3 linked regions of the Homo sapiens genome follow. The protein of the gene in region 1 purifies or fractionates together with the protein of each later gene. This does not show direct contact. Each region holds a gene or a part of one and is shown in the gene's direction. Other genes may lie near its edges.

What was found. Proteins that work in one complex are often made in the same cells at the same time.
Region 2: the proteins of METTL6 (region 1) and WNK1 purify together in Homo sapiens (affinity purification with mass spectrometry; 3 studies listed by BioGRID and IntAct, with this or other methods). This does not show direct contact.
Region 3: the proteins of METTL6 (region 1) and PDLIM5 purify together in Homo sapiens (affinity purification with mass spectrometry; 3 studies listed by BioGRID and IntAct, with this or other methods). This does not show direct contact.

The regions. Positions count from the first base shown.
Region 1 is NC_000003.12:15,410,516-15,417,552, reverse strand, and holds part of METTL6 (tRNA N(3)-cytidine methyltransferase METTL6), read left to right. Parts: intron 1-1,610; coding exon 1,611-1,781; intron 1,782-1,895; coding exon of another isoform or gene 1,896-1,919; exon of another isoform or gene 1,920-1,934; intron 1,935-1,969; coding exon of another isoform or gene 1,970-2,055; intron 2,056-2,638; coding exon of another isoform or gene 2,639-2,744; exon of another isoform or gene 2,745-3,390; coding exon 3,391-3,532; exon of another isoform or gene 3,533-3,607; coding exon of another isoform or gene 3,608-3,746; exon of another isoform or gene 3,747-3,882; intron 3,883-6,115; coding exon 6,116-6,297; 3' UTR 6,298-7,037. UniProt on the Homo sapiens protein: S-adenosyl-L-methionine-dependent methyltransferase that mediates N(3)-methylcytidine modification of residue 32 of the tRNA anticodon loop of tRNA(Ser), including tRNA(Ser)(UGA) and tRNA(Ser)(GCU).
Region 2 is NC_000012.12:895,556-902,592, forward strand, and holds part of WNK1 (serine/threonine-protein kinase WNK1), read left to right. Parts: intron 1-515; coding exon 516-1,177; intron 1,178-1,923; coding exon 1,924-2,126; intron 2,127-4,920; coding exon 4,921-5,115; intron 5,116-7,037. UniProt on the Homo sapiens protein: Serine/threonine-protein kinase component of the WNK1-SPAK/OSR1 kinase cascade, which acts as a key regulator of blood pressure and regulatory volume increase by promoting ion influx.
Region 3 is NC_000004.12:94,664,919-94,668,737, forward strand, and holds the end of PDLIM5 (PDZ and LIM domain protein 5), read left to right. Parts: 3' UTR 1-1,106; coding exon of another isoform or gene 1,107-1,108; 3' UTR 1,109-3,305; downstream 3,306-3,819. UniProt on the Homo sapiens protein: May play an important role in the heart development by scaffolding PKC to the Z-disk region. May play a role in the regulation of cardiomyocyte expansion. Isoforms lacking the LIM domains may negatively modulate the scaffolding activity of isoform 1.

The DNA.
Region 1 (7,037 bases):
CTACGTTTTGTAATATATTTTGATATCCAGTAGTGTATCTTCTCCTTTATTATTCTTCATTCTATTTTATTTATTTATTTATTTATTTATTTATTTATTTTTGAGACAGAGTCTCTATCATGCAGGCTGGCGTGCAGTGGCATGATCTCGGCTCACTACAACCTCCGCCTCCCAGGTTCAAGCGATTCTTCTGCCTCAGTCTTCCCAGTAACTGGGACTACAGGTGCGGGTCACCACGCCCAGCTAATTTTTGTATTTTTAGTAGAGATGGGGTTTCACCATATTGGCCAGGCTGGTCTCAAACTCCTGACCTCATGATCCACCTGCCTTGGCCTCCCAAAGTGCTGGGATTACAGGCGTGAGCCACCGCACCTGGCCTATTTTTTTAAAGATGAGATCTTGCTCTGTTTTCCAGGCTAGCTTGCAGTGGCATGGATCATAGCTCACTGCAGCTTTGAACTCAAGCGATCCTTTCACTTCAGTCTCCCAGGTTGCTGGGATTACAGGCATGAGCCACCATACCTACCTCATTGTTCATCATTTTAAAAATTGACTTGGCTATTCTTAAAGATTTTTACTTTATGATGAATTAGATTCACCCTGTCTAGTTTCTAGAAATCTGTTGGGAATCAGTTTAGATTGCATTGGATTTACAAATGGAATTATGAATAGAATTGACATCTTTTTAATTTTGCATTTAATTTTCCCATCCAGTAACTTTGTATATCTATTTATTCAGGTCCTCATTTACATGAAATAGAAGTTTAATGTTTTTCTTCATAATACTCCTATACATGTGTTGAAGCCTACCAACCAAAATGTACCAGGAACACATTTGTAGTCAAAAAAAGGTTAAGTTTATTTAGCTTGCTGCATAAAGAGAAAATATACCCCAGAAGAACTGCGGGAGCATCTCATCAAGGGGAATTAGAAGGGCTTCTCATAGGGTTTAGGCTTTAAGCAGATGATTCAAAGGAGGATTAAGGAAGCCAGAGGCCAGCAGGACATAGTGGCTCATGCCTGTAATCCCAGCACTTTGGAAGGCTGAAGTGGGAGGATCACTTGAGGCCAGGAGTTCAAGACTAGCCTGTACAACATAGCAAGATCCCATCTTTACAAAAATAAAAATAAAAATTTAGCCAGATGCAGTGGTGCACACCTGTAGTTCCAGCTACTTAGGAGGCTGAAGTGGGAGGATAACTTGGGCTCAGGAGGTGAAGGCTGCAGTGAACCATGATCATGCCACTGCACTCTAGCCCAGCAGACAGAGTGAGACCCTGTCTCTTTAAAAAACAAAAAGAAGCAGAGGCCAGTTTTGGATCATCATCCCTCTGGAAATAATATGCTTCTAAAATGCTCAGTTTTGAGTACGTGATACTCTTATTGTCTCCTCAGTTAAAAATGATTTATTAAAATGAAGTCTTGCTCCTGTAGCAGTAGTGAATATTACATGCTTTATAGTGAGTGATTTATTAATCAGTTTTATCTGGTAACAGTGATAATTTCTATGTATACAAGTGGAAATTGGATCGCCTTTTGATGTTGTATTTTTCTATATGTATCAGCCTAGTGGTTGCATTAAAATTCATTTGTATTTCTTCCCCCTGTAGCAAAATCCTTTATATGATACAGAAAGATGCAAGGTATTCCAGTGTGATCTGACTAAAGATGATCTTCTGGATCATGTACCGCCAGAGTCTGTGGATGTTGTTATGTTGATATTTGTGCTGTCAGCTGTTCATCCTGATAAGATGCACCTTGTCTTACAAAACATTTACAAGGTTAGTGATTTGGGGCCTGCACTTGAGGGTTGGACAGTCTGGATTCTTTTACTTACCTTCCCTCATGAGGCTCATGTACTGTCTAGATTCACATAGTCTCTCCATTCTCACTAGGTAGGCTGTGTAGTGAGTGTATAGAAAGGGGTCCTCTGGCATAAAACATCCACCCTAAATTCTGATTTGTGCAGTGCCATGGCTGCTCTTCAGAGCTTCGCCAGCCCTGGGACAAGGATGATTTTGCAGTTACCTGGGATCCATGGAGTCCTGCTATAAGGTGAGAGGAGTTATGGTTTAGTGGTCAAGAGTACACAGTTTGGCCAGGTGTGGTGTTTCATGCCTGTAATCCCAACACTTTGGGATGCCAAGGCAGGTGAATCACTTGAGGTCAGGAGTTTGAAACCAGCCTGGCCAACATAGCAAGACCTTGTCTAAAAAAAGCTAATGTATGATCATTGGCAGATCACTTAACCCTGTTGAGTATTGGTTTCCGTGTCTCATGTGAGAATAATAATCACATTCCTTTGTCCCACAGTTGGGTGAAGATACAATGAGAAAATGTATGGTTAAGCAGTCAAATGCTAGGCATGTATCAGTCATTAGCACCGTGATTGAGCTATACATTGTGGCACAATGAAATGAGAGCTGAGGCTCAGAATGAGGAAAACCAACCTGAATCAGTAAAGAGCCAAAACGACATTCTGGTTTTTTGTTTGTTTGTTTGTTTGTTTTTTTAAGAGACAGTTGAATACAGTTTGAGTACTAGGAGATGGTGAATAAAATGTTGCAAGAAAGTGCTTCAATGAGGATAACACTTTCATTTATTGTCTCTAACACTTATTTATTTATTTTTGAGACAGGGTCTTGCTGTGTCACTCAGGCTGGAGTGCAGTGGCATGGACGTGGCTCACTGCAGCCTCAACTTCCTGGGCTCAAGCAGTTCTCCCACCTCAGCCTCTGAAGTAGTTGGGACTACAGGACGCACTACCAGATCCAGCTAATTTTTAATTTTTGTGTAGAGATGGGGTCTCACTATATTGCCCAGGTTGGTCTCTAACATTTTAATCCTGTGACACTGGACATTCCAGGGTGCTCTTGGAGGTACTCAAGAATTGTCTTCAGGGACGAGCGAGGTGGCTCACGCCTGTAATCCCAACTTTGGGAGACTGAGGTGGGCAAATTACTTGAGGTCAGGAGTTCGAGACTAGCCTGGCCAACATGGTGAAACCTCATCTCTACTAAAATACAAAAATTAGCCGGGCATGGTGGCGGGCACCTATAATCCCAGCTACTCGGGAGGCTGAGACACGAGAATCACTTGAACGTGGGAGACGGAGGTTGCAGTGAGCTGAGATTATGCCACTGCACTCCAGCCTGGGCGACAGAGCAAGACTCCATCTCAAAAAAAAAAAAAAAAGAAGTGTCTTAGTGTTATGGAGCCCTGCCTGGTCTTACTATCTTTTTAAGTAGTAGGCCATTTTGGTTCCGTATTATGGGCATTTCAGTCTGTCCCCTTAGTAACTATCACAAATTTATTTTAAGTCCTAACTTAATCAGGTTTTATTTTGACAGGGTTCTCCAAAGTCATGTTCAGCCTGCTTTTGTTTCATAGGTATTAAAACCAGGCAAAAGTGTCTTGTTTCGTGACTACGGACTGTATGATCATGCCATGCTTAGGTTTAAAGCCAGCAGCAAACTTGGAGAAAACTTTTATGTTAGACAAGATGGGACCAGATCATATTTTTTTACTGATGGTAAGATGAATGGAATCCAGTCTTTAAATGTTTTATTCTTTGTTTCTGTTTATTTGATTGCATTATCACTGCAAGGCTGCTTGGAGAAGGCTTGCGACATGTGCACGAGACCCTGAAACAAGCCCTCTACTGCACAATATTTACCCAGCACCTGGAAGGCACAGACCTGGCCCCTGCCCTTGAAGAGCTCACAAGCCTTCTCTGGTGTCAGTGACTCCCCTAATGAGCTTGGGTTAATGGACAGCCTCTGACATGCCATGTGGATTCCCTACTAGGAATTGTGCTGGAATAAGAGGGAGGGCAAGTCAGAAACTTCTTGTCCAGTTAAAAATAAAGCAAATTTGACAGTATAATGCCTTGAGATTACTTTCCCATGGCACAAAGTCAGGAAACCTTTTTCTGTAGAATTGATTGGATCTGTTTTGGGGTTTGGTTTTTTTGTTGTTTTTGAGACAGAGTCTAATTCTGTCACCCAGGCTGGAGTGCAGTGGTGTGATCTTGGCTCACTGCAGCCTCCACCTTCCAGACTCAAGTGATCCACCGAAGCCTCCTGAGTAGCTGGGACCACAGACACATGCCACCATGGCTGGCTAATTTCTTGTATTTTTGGTAGAATGGGGGTTTCACCATATTGCCCATGCTGGTCTCGAACTTCTGAGCTCAAGTGATCCATCTGTCTCAGCCTCCAAAAGTGGTGGGATTACAGGTGTTAGTCACCATGCCTGTCCTGGATCTGTTTTTAAATAAATATGCAAATTTGCTGTAAAGAGGCATTTATTTATTTTTGAGACAGAGTCTTACAGGCTGGAGTGCAGTGGCATGATCTTGGCTCACTGCAACCCCCACCACCCAGGCTCAAGTGATTCTCATGCCTCAGCCTCCCAAGTAGCAAGGATTACAAGTGTGTGCCACCACACCCAACTAATTTTTGTATTTTTAGTAGAGATGCGGTTTTGCCATGTTGGCCAGGCTGGTCTCAATCTCCTGGTCTCAAGTGATCTGCCCACTTCAGCCTCCCAAAATTCTGGGACTGCAGGTATGAGCCACCATGCCCAGCCTAAAGAGGTATTTAAAAAGTCATTTTTGATAAGAAAATGTGGAACATTATTTTGGTCTTTTAGGTGTCTTGAACATAGTCTACCTAATCATCTAGACAGGAAGATAATTAACCTCTATTTTAACAAACATTTTTCTTCTTGAAATGAAATATTCTTTTAGATACCAAAATGAATTAAAATTGAGTGATTACTATTAAAGCTGCAAAATTATTTGGGAGACTGAGATAGAAGGATCACTTGAGCTCAGGAGTTCGAGACCAGCCTGGGCAACCGTGAAACTTTGTCTCTACTAAAAATAAAAAAAAAAAAATATTAGCCAGGAGTGGTGGCATGCACTTGTGGTCCTGCTGCTTAGGAGGCTGAGGCAAGAGGATCATTTGGCCCCAGAAGATGGAGGCTGCAGTGAGCTATGATCATACCACTGCCCTCCAGCCTGGGCGACAGGGCGAGAAGCCTATCTCAAAAAAACAAAACAAAACAAAACAAAATGCAAAATTATCAAAATAGGTTAAAATTCAAAAGATGTTTTAATTCATAAAATTTAAACCAATTGTAAATATTGAGAAGATTCAGTGATATCTGCAGAGTGCTTCAGAGCACGTTCTCTGGAGCAATGCTCTTAGTACGAGTCTTTATTTTTGCTGCCTCACCATTTATTCTGTTTGTTTCATTTAATGTGTAGTGATGTATTATTTGGGTTAGATTTTCCTGGAGCTAGGTCACCACTGGGTGTTTTTCTCCACTCTGATCACAAATTTTCCTCCTTCGTGTTAGGATGAATAAGATGTTTGATGTAAACAAATTGAGCACATGCAGACCTTGTAGGAGTATAGCCAATTTTTATGTTTTTGTTCGGAGATGGGAAACAATAAGATAATTTTTAAAAAGGAATATAATCGGCCGGGCCCAGTGGCTCATGCGTGTTATCTCAGCACTTTGGGAGGCCAAGATTGGGGGATCATTTGAGGTCAGGGGTTTGAGACCAGCCTGGCCAACATGGCGAAACCCTGTCTCTACTAAAAATACAAAAAAATTAACCAGGCATGGTAGTGTGTGCCTGTAGTCCCAGCTACTTAAGAGGCTGAGGCAGGAGAATCACTTAAGCCCAGGAATCGGAGGTTGCAGTGAGCCGAGATCGTGCTCCTGATCTAGCCTGGGTGACAGAGTGACATTGTGTCTCAAAAAAAAATTTTTTTTTAATTAAAAAAAAAAAGGAATATAACCAATTTGGAATTGTTTCTTTTTACTCGGGCTTTTGTATTTGAGAATTCATAATAAGGCAAGATGCGAACACCAGGTTGTCCTTCACCTTGTTCTGATTTAATTGTTTAATTGGAGGTTTCTGTTTGGGTAGAAGAGGAGAAGGAGTGTATTAGTTCCCAAATCAAAACCTTTAAATTTTAGCATTGAGGTTTTCATTTAAAAAAATATTAAAATAGCCTCAGCCCTCTATCCCTCCTCAAGGACTGCAAAGCAAATGTAATGTTATGAAGACTGTTGAGCATTGTTGATGCTTGTCTTACAGACTTCCTGGCTCAGCTCTTTATGGACACAGGTTATGAAGAAGTGGTAAACGAGTATGTGTTTCGAGAGACGGTGAATAAAAAAGAAGGCCTGTGTGTGCCAAGAGTTTTCCTTCAGAGCAAATTTCTAAAGCCTCCTAAGAACCCATCTCCTGTGGTCCTGGGCCTGGATCCTAAGTCCTGACCTTTCATGAGGTTGGCATTTATACCTTCCCTTGAAGAGGAAAATTTAAAATCACTCTTTCGTCTGGGTGCGGTGGCTCATGCCTGTAATCCCAGCACTTCGGGAGGCCGAGGTTGGGGGATCATCTGAGGTCAGGAGTTTGAGACCAGCCTGGCCAACATGGTGAGACCCCATCTCTACTAAAAATACAAAAAAATTAGCTGGGCATAGTGGCGAGTGCCTGTAATCCCAGCTACTCAGGAGGCTGAGGCAAGAGAATCGCTTGAACCCAAGAGGCGGAGACTGCAGTGAGCCAAGATCATGCCATTGCACTCCAGCCTGGGCGACAGAGTGAGACCCTGTTTCATAAATAAATAAAATCACTCTTTTTACTTTATATATTTTTTGAGACAGGATCTTGTGGTACGCAGGCTGGAGTGCAGTGGTGTGTGATCACAGCTCATTGTAGCCTCGACCTCCCCTGGGCTCAAGCAGTCTTCCTGCCTCAGCCTCCTGAGTAGCTAGGACTACAGGTGTAAGCCACCATGCCTGGCCCTTAATTTTTTTTAATGAGCATGTACAGTAGTCCCGCTTTATCCATGGTTTCACTTACCACAATTTCAATTACCTGTTTTCAACTGCAGTCAGTTACTTTTCTTAAGATATTTTGAGGGTTATAGGCTCATGCCTATAACCCCAGCACTTTGAGAGGCCAAGGCCAGCAGATCCCTTGAGCCCAGGAGTTCAAGACCAGTGTGGGC
Region 2 (7,037 bases), on another chromosome or scaffold:
TTAAGTGATTCTCCTGCCTCAGCCTCCCAAGTAGCTGGGATTACAGGCACACGCTACCATGCCTGGCTAATTTTTGTATTTTTAGTAGAGACAGGGTTTCACCACGTTGGCCAGGCTGATCTGAAACTCCTGACCTCAAGTGATCCACCTGCTTCAGCCTCCCAAAATGGTGGGCTTACAGGCATGAGCCACTATGCCTGGCCCTGACCTTTTGTTATGTATATGTTGACTAAGACATAAATCTGAATTCTGTGTATGACATCAAATACGAAAGTAAATTATTTACTTTATAAGCGTAGCCAGCCACACAGAATCTGCATCTCAGTACCCATGTGTTCTCTATGATGGTATTCAATTTTTCTTCCTAGTCAAAAGTGGAGGCGCTATGTAAAGAGACAATCAGCCTACTCTTTGACAGGGAAATAAAGTGATTCTTTTTTTCCTTTTTTAAATTGTCTGTGATAGAAATTGGATATTGAGAACTTAAGTTTTTAATCTTTGTCCTTTTTTATCAGGTTTCTGTTGCAGCAGACGGTGCCCAGAAAGAGGGTAAAAATAAGTCAGAAGATGCAAAGTCTGTTCATTTTGAATCCAGCACCTCAGAGTCCTCAGTGCTATCAAGTAGTAGTCCAGAGAGTACCTTGGTGAAACCAGAGCCGAATGGCATAACCATCCCTGGTATCTCTTCAGATGTGCCAGAGAGTGCCCACAAAACTACTGCCTCAGAGGCAAAGTCAGACACTGGGCAGCCTACCAAGGTTGGACGTTTTCAGGTGACAACTACAGCAAACAAAGTGGGTCGTTTCTCTGTATCAAAAACTGAGGACAAGATCACTGACACAAAGAAAGAAGGACCAGTGGCATCTCCTCCTTTTATGGATTTGGAACAAGCTGTTCTTCCTGCTGTGATACCAAAGAAAGAGAAGCCTGAACTGTCAGAGCCTTCACATCTAAATGGGCCGTCTTCTGACCCGGAGGCCGCTTTTTTAAGTAGGGATGTGGATGATGGTTCCGGTAGTCCACACTCGCCCCATCAGCTGAGCTCAAAGAGCCTTCCTAGCCAGAATCTAAGTCAAAGCCTTAGTAATTCATTTAACTCCTCTTACATGAGTAGCGACAATGAGTCAGATATCGAAGATGAAGACTTAAAGTTAGAGCTGCGACGACTACGAGATAAGTAAGTATATTTTCTCTTGTGAAAGAATGTCAGATAAGGTTTTCAGACCTAGATCCCAGGGCCAAGATTAATAATATTTTTCGCCACAATATGCTAATGTCTCATTTCTTTTAAAGAGACAGTGCCACAGAAGCCCCACCCCATACCTCCCCACCACACACACACACACACACACACACACACACACACACACACACACACACACACGATTCCCAACCACTGACTCACAGGCACAGGCAGCTTCTCTTGCACTCATACAGACCCATAGCATTTCTAGTTCTAGAACTTCTTCATTGTTACTATATTATTACTGTATTATTGTTACTGTATTGTATTATTATTTTTATTAATAGCATATTGTATCACTATTAACTGCTCTTTATTTATTAGTCCACTAAATGAATCTGGCACTGGGATGTATGATTATTTGGCACGTTTTGTTTGGCAGATTGGGTCAGAGTAGCAAATTCAGCTATTGTGTGCGTGGCCTCAAAAGTCAGGAAATGTTTTTCTCCTAAAACATTATCAACCATTTGTTGTTGGCTAGGAGCTTGTTGGAACATGGCTTGGGTAATGCAGGCCAGCAAGGTGAGTTGACAAACTAGAATCTCGTGGTAGTACATTTGGGGAAAAGGTTCATTAGTAACTACTACATACTTGAAAGCAGGTTTAGGAATATGCTGTTAATTCTTGTCTGAATGAAGAGGATTATGGTATTTTGAATTATGTTTGGTTATCTTTCACAGACATCTCAAAGAGATTCAGGACCTGCAGAGTCGCCAGAAGCATGAAATTGAATCTTTGTATACCAAACTGGGCAAGGTGCCCCCTGCTGTTATTATTCCCCCAGCTGCTCCCCTTTCAGGGAGAAGACGACGACCCACTAAAAGCAAAGGCAGCAAATCTAGTCGAAGCAGTTCCTTGGGGAATAAAAGCCCCCAGCTTTCAGGTAAAAAGCCCTGGACTAGGTCAGCCACAGCTGTCCTATCTTTTGTTTCTGTCTCCAGCTGTATGTGACCTGCTGAACATTTGTTGTTTTTGTTAAATTTCAAAGGAATTTGGCTCTCCTGATATTTTTGCTTCCTTGACTGCTGTACTTACATTTATTGTACCTCTTTTTGAGTCTATAGAAGTAGACTTAGTGAATACAATGGCTTATTCCATTGTAATCCATATTGCTATCTACTGGTAATCTTTATTTATAGTTATTCTTAAGGATAGACATTTAGCTTTGCCTGTTAACTCGTATAACTCACATTTAACCAAACTCTTGGGCAGTTGGAAGAAAATACATTATTCTCTGTTTAGTAAAACTTGGGTAGATTCTTTGTTTTAATGGATGACTTAGTCATAATTGCAACTTAGATGAATGTAATCGTCATATAGATATTTGTGTGTATGTCTAAGTGGTAACTTCTTGATTAAGGTTTTTATTTCATTTATATTGGGTTAAAGAACTTGCTAGTCATTGGTTAGGCACGGTGGCTCACGCCTGTAATCCCAGAACTTTGGGAGGCTGAGGCAGGCAGATCACGAGGTCAGGAGATCAAGACCATCCTGACTAACACGGTGAAACCCTGTCTCTACTAAAAATAAAAAAATTAGGTGGGCATGGTGGCAGGCGCCTATAGTCCCAGCTACTCAGGAGGCTGAGGCAGGAGAATGGCATGAGCCCGGGAGGCGGAGCTTGCAGTGAGCTGAGATTGCACCACTGCACTCCAGCCTCGGTGACAGAGCAAGACTCTGTCTCAAAAAAAAAAAAAAAAAGAAGAACTTGCTAGTCATTAAAATCAAAGAAATAGTTAAGTGATACTCTTTTGTAATGTAGTATATATATATATTTATTTATTTTAAGAGACAGGGCCTCACTCTGTTGCCCAGACTGGAGTGCAGTGGTGTGATCATAGCACACAACACAACAGCCTCAAACTCCTAGGCTCAGGTGGTCCTCCTACCTTAGCTTCCTGGGTAGCTGGGATTACAGGCACACACTACCATGCCCTGCTAACTTTGAATTTTTTTTTTGAGACAGAATCCCGCTCTGTTGCCCAGGCTGGAGTGCAGTGGCACGATCTCGGCTCACTGCATTCTCCGCCTCCCAGTTTCAAGTGATCCTCCTGCCTCAGCCCCGCATAGTAGCTGGGATTACAGGCACATGTCACCATGCCTGGCTAATTTTTGTATTTTTAGTAGAGATGGGGTTTCACTATGTTGGCCAGGCTGGTCTCAAACTCCTGGCTCAGGTGATCCACCCACCTTGGCCTCCCAAAGTGCTGGGATTACAGGCGTGAGCCACCGTGCCCGGCCCTGGACTATATTTTAATTGGGATAGATAGAGAGTTTCTAATCCTTTGGTGAAATTATGGTAGTGTTAACACAATTAGTTGAAAAGTAAAAGAAGGTTAAAATATGTTAAAAAGCAGTTGCAAACTTCTTAGCAGTTCCATTCTCTGGAAAGGTTCACAGATATCCAAATGTAGCACATTAGGGCCAGTTCATGCAGCCCATTAGTAGAGATGTGATTGTAAGAGAAATCAGCTAATTTCTGATCTGATCCCAATCAGATCTTTTTTGTTTTTGTTTTTGTTTTTTTGAGGCAGAGTCGGCAGTGGCTCAACCTCCAACTCCCAGGTTCAAGCAATTCTCATGCCCCAGCCTCCCAAGTAGCTGGGATTACAAGCATGTAATCCCAAACCAAATGTATAAGAACACCTGGCTAATTTTTGTATTTTTGTATTTTTAGTTGCACTATGTTGGCCAGACTGGTCTGAAACTTCTGGCCTCAGGTGATCCGCCCGCCTCAGCCTCCCAAAGTGCGGATTACAGGCATGAGCCACTATGCCCAGCTATGATCCTAATCAAATTCTAATCCTAATTTTGACATACTTTTTGAGTGGACTTGAATTCAACTGGGAACCGGGGAGCAGAGAGTCAATTTTAGGACAACCGACCTATTGAAAGCAACCTACCAAAAATAATTTTAAACACCCATTGCTCTGTAGTGACCTCCATCATTTTTGAACACCTCTTTTGTATTTGCTCTGATGCACGTTTATAGGAAAGTCTAAGCAGAGACTGCCTAGCAAACCTTTTTGTATAATGATTCAACACATTTTCTAATAGGGTAAAAAAAAAAGCAATCATGGAATTGCAGAATGGAATCTGGGTATCCACTAGGTACTCTGGTCTTCTTACGCTGCTCAGACATGTGGCCCATCTAGGTTTTCTAAAGCTAAAAAGCTCTGGAATAGTACATATGGCCCTATTACCTATGGATTCTTTTCTTTTTTTTTTTTTTTTTTTGAGTGCAGTGGCATGATGTCGGCTCACTGCAGCCTCTGCCTCTGGGTTCAAGCAATTCTCCTTCCTCAGCCTCCTGAGTAGCTGGGATTATAGGCACCCTCCACCACGCCTGGCTAATTTTTATATTTTTAGTAGAGACAGGGTTTCATCATGTTGGCCAGGCTGGTCTCGAACTCCTGACCTCAGGTGATCCGCCCACCTTGGCCTCCCAAAGTGCTGGGATATTATAGGCGTGAGCCACAACACCCAGCCTATCTATTGAGTCTTAGTGTCATTCCTCACTTCTCCCGTTAGTGAGGACTTTGTTCTTCTCATCAGTTTGTAGCTTTTGACCCATCATTCATCACTCAGTGGAACAAACCAAATGTATAAGAACAGTGCCTGATGAGTGCATGGGAAGAGCTGGACATGTTTCCTCATGCCACTTTATCTTTTGGCAGGTAACCTGTCTGGTCAGAGTGCAGCTTCAGTCTTGCACCCCCAGCAGACCCTCCACCCTCCTGGCAACATCCCAGAGTCCGGGCAGAATCAGCTGTTACAGCCCCTTAAGCCATCTCCCTCCAGTGACAACCTCTATTCAGCCTTCACCAGTGATGGTGCCATTTCAGTACCAAGCCTTTCTGCTCCAGGTCAAGGTAATAAAGCAACCATCATCGTCCAAAAACAATAAAATGGAGATGTTGCCATACCTGGGACAAAAGCCTGTTAAGGCGGGTTGGGAGACTAGCTGACCAGAACACAGCCTGTGTGTTGTACACTGAAGAATCTGGGTGAAAAGGGAAGTGGAGTGATAATGAGAATCGGTGGGCTCACTGCTCCCATTAGGTGAAATTACTTTTTTTCAAGGAATTACAGTGAAAAGTTACATCTGTGTGGCCTATATGACTTGCTCATTTGGGATTTGGAACTTAGGCTTTAATATTAGGCTGAGATTTCCTGGATGAAATTCTAAGGTGTTTTAGCAGTTTCTGAAGCTAATACATTTTCTTAGCCATTGTAGAATTTTGTTACTTTTAAGTATGGGAGTGGCATACTAAAATGAATAACCTTACAATTCAGTTTTTTATCCATAATCTACTTTCCAAATATAGCTCTGTTTATTAGTGATTGCTGAAAAAATTCCCACAGAGGAAAGAGCTTTTAGTCATATTAGAACAAGAATTGAAAAGACTTGGGCATCTGGGTGAGAAGAATGAAAAAAATATAGGTACTGGCTTATGTGCCTTTGCCACAGTTTCACAGAAATTAGAGATCAGTCTCTTCACAGGAAGAATGCACTTGATTGGTAAGGAGGGCAAACTAGCTAGCATTATTCGAACTAAGAAAAGCTTCCGCATTTTGCAGATGGGTAGAATTAAGACCTAATATTTCATCTCTTACATATCTGACCTTCCCCCCAGAAGCTTGTTCTTCTGTGTGCCATCTTAGTGCATTTCACCACTCCAGCCTCAAGTTTCTAACATCTTGTAGTTGTGTTCTGTCTCTTCTCCTCTCTCTGTTCTACCCTGTTTTTCCCCTCTCACAGGCTGTGCGAAGTTTAACTGTGCATCTGAACAGGTGACATTCAAACCTGGTGGCAGGAGGACCCGATTTCTGAGTACGCCCTGCTTGGCTCTTTGTGTGTAACACCTTTACTCCTTCCTTGTCCTTGTGTTTCTGCTGCTTGGATCTGATGTTTCACGCAGTCCATTTTCATTTGTCTCTTTTTGTATATCATCTACTCAGTGGCTTGGCTGAATTACTGTTACCCTCAGAAGTTTGGGCCCCCACATTAATTATGATAAAAAATGTCAAAATAACAAGTTATCTACAAATTTCAATGTAACTTTCTGGTAGAAGTGCTTCTTCATGGATCTGTGACAGAGAGTGGATATGGTATCTAGGCAATAGATTGCTGGGTCATTTAGAATAATGAAGACTGAACTCCACAGTCGTAGTCAGTGCTGTCTGTCTGCCCTAGCATTAGAAATGAGAGAAATCAGCCAGACACGGTGGCGTACACCTGTAATCCCAGCACTTTGGGAGGCCGAGGCGGGAAGATTGCTTGAGGCCAGGAGCTCGAGACCAACCCTGGGCAACATGGTGATACCCCATCTCTAAAAAAAAAAAAAAAGTTAGCCTGGCATGGTGGTGTGCACCTATAGTCCCAGCTGCCCAGGAGGCTGAGGCGGGAGGATTACCACCTTAAGACCAGGAGGTTGAGACTGCAGTGAGCCATGATTGCACCACTGCACCCCAGCCTGAGCGACAGAGTGAGACTCTATCTCAAAAAAAAGAAACGAAATGAAGAAAGCATTTTGACCAATGATGCTCTTAGATCCTGGCAGCAGGTAAAAATTATGTACCATTTTTTTCCATTCTTTGTCAGAGTAGATTGAAATCTTATTTTTCTTCTCTATTAAGCCTAAGCAGCTACCAGTTGAAAAGATGCTAGGATCTCTTCATTGGATCATTCCACCACTACTGTCCTCTAACCCCATAAAATCAAAAGCGGTTTTTAGTTTGGTTATTCTGATAAAGCACTTAGTCTAATAAAGATCAAAGCCCAGCATCTGCA
Region 3 (3,819 bases), on another chromosome or scaffold:
CTAGTAGGAAAGGACAATAAGATTTTTTATCAAAATGTGTCATGCCAGTAAGAGATGTTATATTCTTTTCTCATTTCTTCCCCACCCAAAAATAAGCTACCATATAGCTTATAAGTCTCAAATTTTTGCCTTTTACTAAAATGTGATTGTTTCTATTCATTGTGTATGCTTCATCACCTATATTAGGCAAATTCCATTTTTTTCCCTTGTGCTAAGGTAAAGATTTAATTAAATAATTTTGGCCTCTCATAGTTTTCTCTCTCTTTAAAGAGAATAAATAGAGGGCCAGGTGTGGTGGCTCACGCCTGTGATCCCAGCACTTTGGGAGGCCAAGACGGGCGGATCATGAGGTCAAGAGATCAAGATCATCCTGGCCAACATGGTGAAACCCTGTCTCTACTAAAAATACAAAAATGAGCTGGGCATGGTGGGGCGTGCCTGTAGTCCCATGTACTTGGGAGGCTGAGGCAGGAAAATTCTTGAACCCAGGAGACGGAAGTTGCAGTGAGCTGAGATCACACCACTGCACTCCAGCCTGGTGACAGAGCAAGACTCCGGCTCTTAAAAAAAAAAAAAAAAAAAAAAAAAGAGAGAGAGAGAATAAATAGAAAAGAATGTGGCTGGGAATTGTGAATCAGAAGATTATACCCCCCAATTGTTTTTCAATCCCCTTTTCTCAAATAATAAATTAGTTAAATCAGTTTCTGAGTTATGCCACTGGCTGATGAAGAGTTGAGAGGTCTCTTTGCAGAATGATCTTTTTGTTTCGTTTTGTTTCTTCTTCTGCATTTAAAAATTAAAAGATTGGTTTGAGGATGTGATGAAATTGAGACTTTTTGTGGTTTTCTCTCAATAATAAGTGAACCAATTTCAAATGTGATCACAAAGTTTGGAAAGCTTTTATTCACAGAGGTTGGGTAGTGTTGGGAGGGGAGTTTAATTACTCAGATTGGCCTGTTATTTGATTTCCTCCTTTGGGAAAAGAATTATGTAGATACCACATGGAGACAGGGAAACAATTGTGGTAAAACTGTGGATCCTGTTGCTATTTGCCCAGTGAGAAAACAGATTCTGGTATTTGATTTGGTTTTTCTCTTTGTTTCCAGAATGGATGAAAGTCCATGAACCTCCTAAGTTATAATTTAAATTTGTTTGGGGCAAGGTGATTTTATAGTCGAGACAGAGCCCTAGGTCCTTCCTGCCCCATCACTCACTTACGACATCACTTCCATTGTGTGCATGTTTGTTATAGAGGAGGTTTTAGGCTACAATATTTGTTTAACCTCCCTAAGAACTTTCAAGGCATCTGTCCTGAAAGCTGTTAATTTATGGTCTAGCAGATTTATATTATATGCAGATAATAATTAACTGGGGATAAAAGAATGGCAAGGGGTGACACAAAGTAGCAAACTGAATACTTCTCCAATAGCAACCCCAAGCTACCTCCTCACCCTGCATCTTGGAGGGAGGCAGGAAATTTCTTTTGAAATAAAGTGCTGGAGCTGAATTCTGCATTATTTATCGTTGCTGCTGAAACCACCTATAAAAGACTTGCTGGCTAATGTGCATTGTCATATAATGTACACTGTCACATCTTTACAGTCTTGTATGTTATAGAATACAAAATAAGTTGATGGTTTTGTTTGGTGTGAGCTTTTTGTTTGTTTGTTTAGTTTTGCCTTCATAGGTTATATGCCAAGATAGTATTTGATAAGTCAATGACATTTGGATGTTTTCTTCAAAGAATTTTATTTGACCCAGATTTCTTATAAAGTTATCTTACATTAAGGATGTCATTTTCATCAGACCTTCTTTCTACATATTATTCATGAAGCATAATGTTGCATTTCTCCAAATTTTATGCCTGAAAGGGTAGTGTTGCTTCCTAAGGTATCATGTTGTCTTTGTGCTTTGTCCATCTCTTCCGTGGCGAAGCTTTATATCTGTTCCTAAAACAGTTAATCCTGTGAAATAAATATTGAACATAATCCAGAAGAATCTCTCTGTTTCCCTTGGGGAATGCCATATTTAATTCACCAGCAGTAATCCTTTAATAACTGGCAGAGCACTTTATTCTTCTGGTGAGCTCCCTGAATATTTATTTTTCTGATTATAAATTTTCTATATTAGTAGCATTTTTTAATTATTACTTCTTCACTATAGAGCATTTACTTTTAGTCTCTAGATGTATATTTTGGAATGCTGTACTTGGCATAACATAGATTAAAATCATAATGCATGACTAAAAACTCCTTGGATTTATTTCCCATTTTAAAATTTTTAGCGGTAAGTTCAGATTTATAATCTTTCTCTAGACTTCCATGGTCTGAATGTTGCCTGCTGAAGTAGCAACCTAAAAAGTATCCCCTGCTTATGCTTGTCCAGTTGGCCCTCCATGTCCATAGGCTTCGCATCTGTGATTCAGCCCACTGTGGGTCAAAAATATTTGGGGAAAAAAATGGATGGTTGCGCCTTTGCTGAACATGTACAAACTTTTTTTTGTCATTAAACAATATAGTATAACAACTATTTACAAAGCATTTACATTGTATTAGCTATTATAGGTAATCTAGAGATGATTTAAAGTGTATGGTAGGATGTGCATAGGTTATATGCAAATACTACACCATTTTCTATAAGGGACTTGAACATCATGGACTTTAGTATCCTAGGGGGTTCTTGGAACCCATCACCCATAGGGGCACCATAGGACAACTATAGTACCGTGTTTATTTCCTATTAATTCAGGTTCCGTTTAGAGTCTAAAACTAAAACCTAATCATTTAGTCACAGTGTAAAAACAAATGGAAATAACAGCTCAAATCTTCAAAATATTACTATAGCATTATGTTTAAAATAATCTACAACAAAAATGTACCATTTTCAAGCAGTACTACATTAGGAGCCCTTTTATAGAAAATAATTTCTTCTTTACCCCCGTTCCAGTGTGAATCTAGTATTCTGTTAACATTTGTGTGGCATTTGGAGTTTGTCATCCCCATTGAAGGGAGAGCCTTCTCAGACATGAAGCAAGGGAAACATACTGAATAGTTTTACACAAATTTGATCTGGCTTCCATTTGTCCCCCTCATTTCCCAAATGTTTAAATGTATTGGATTTGGATTCTCAATGTATAAGTTGCCTTATCTGTTAATGTCTATCTTCTGTCTCTTTAATTTTGTATATCTGCTGTTTTGCTTTTGGATACATTTTCTAATTAGAAGTCACATGATAAATATAATCAGTATAGTAATAATACCATAATGTGCACATACTCAATAAATAAATGACTGCATTGTTGTAAATGAGCTCTCCTTTTTGTTGTTGTTGGTTGGCGAGTGGTTTCCATCAAGTCATCATGGGAAAATAATCAAGTTCCATATTCACAGGTTAGGATAGGATGTAATAATTCTCAGAAGAACCCTTCTAGTATGATATTTGCTTATCAAAATGTCTCAGAAACAAAATATTTGAAAATACTGTCACATTTATTGTATTTCTCTCTGTTCTTATGCCGTGCATGTAGAATGTACCCAATGTTTATGAATTAATAGATAAATAAGGTCTATTGTCTTTTGAAAATATTTATTGCTGAAATGATTTATTGGAACAACCTGTCATATCAAACATCATATTAGAACATAATCAAAGAACATAAATCATCATCCATATTTCCACATTTTGCATTAGATATTGGGATGCTTAACTCATCTCAATCTCATTAACTGACTATTCCACAACTAGGTAGGCTCACCTCTGCCTCATTTGTTTATTAGTTTAAGATATTTTTCCAACTGTATAAAGTTAAGACAGATGTTT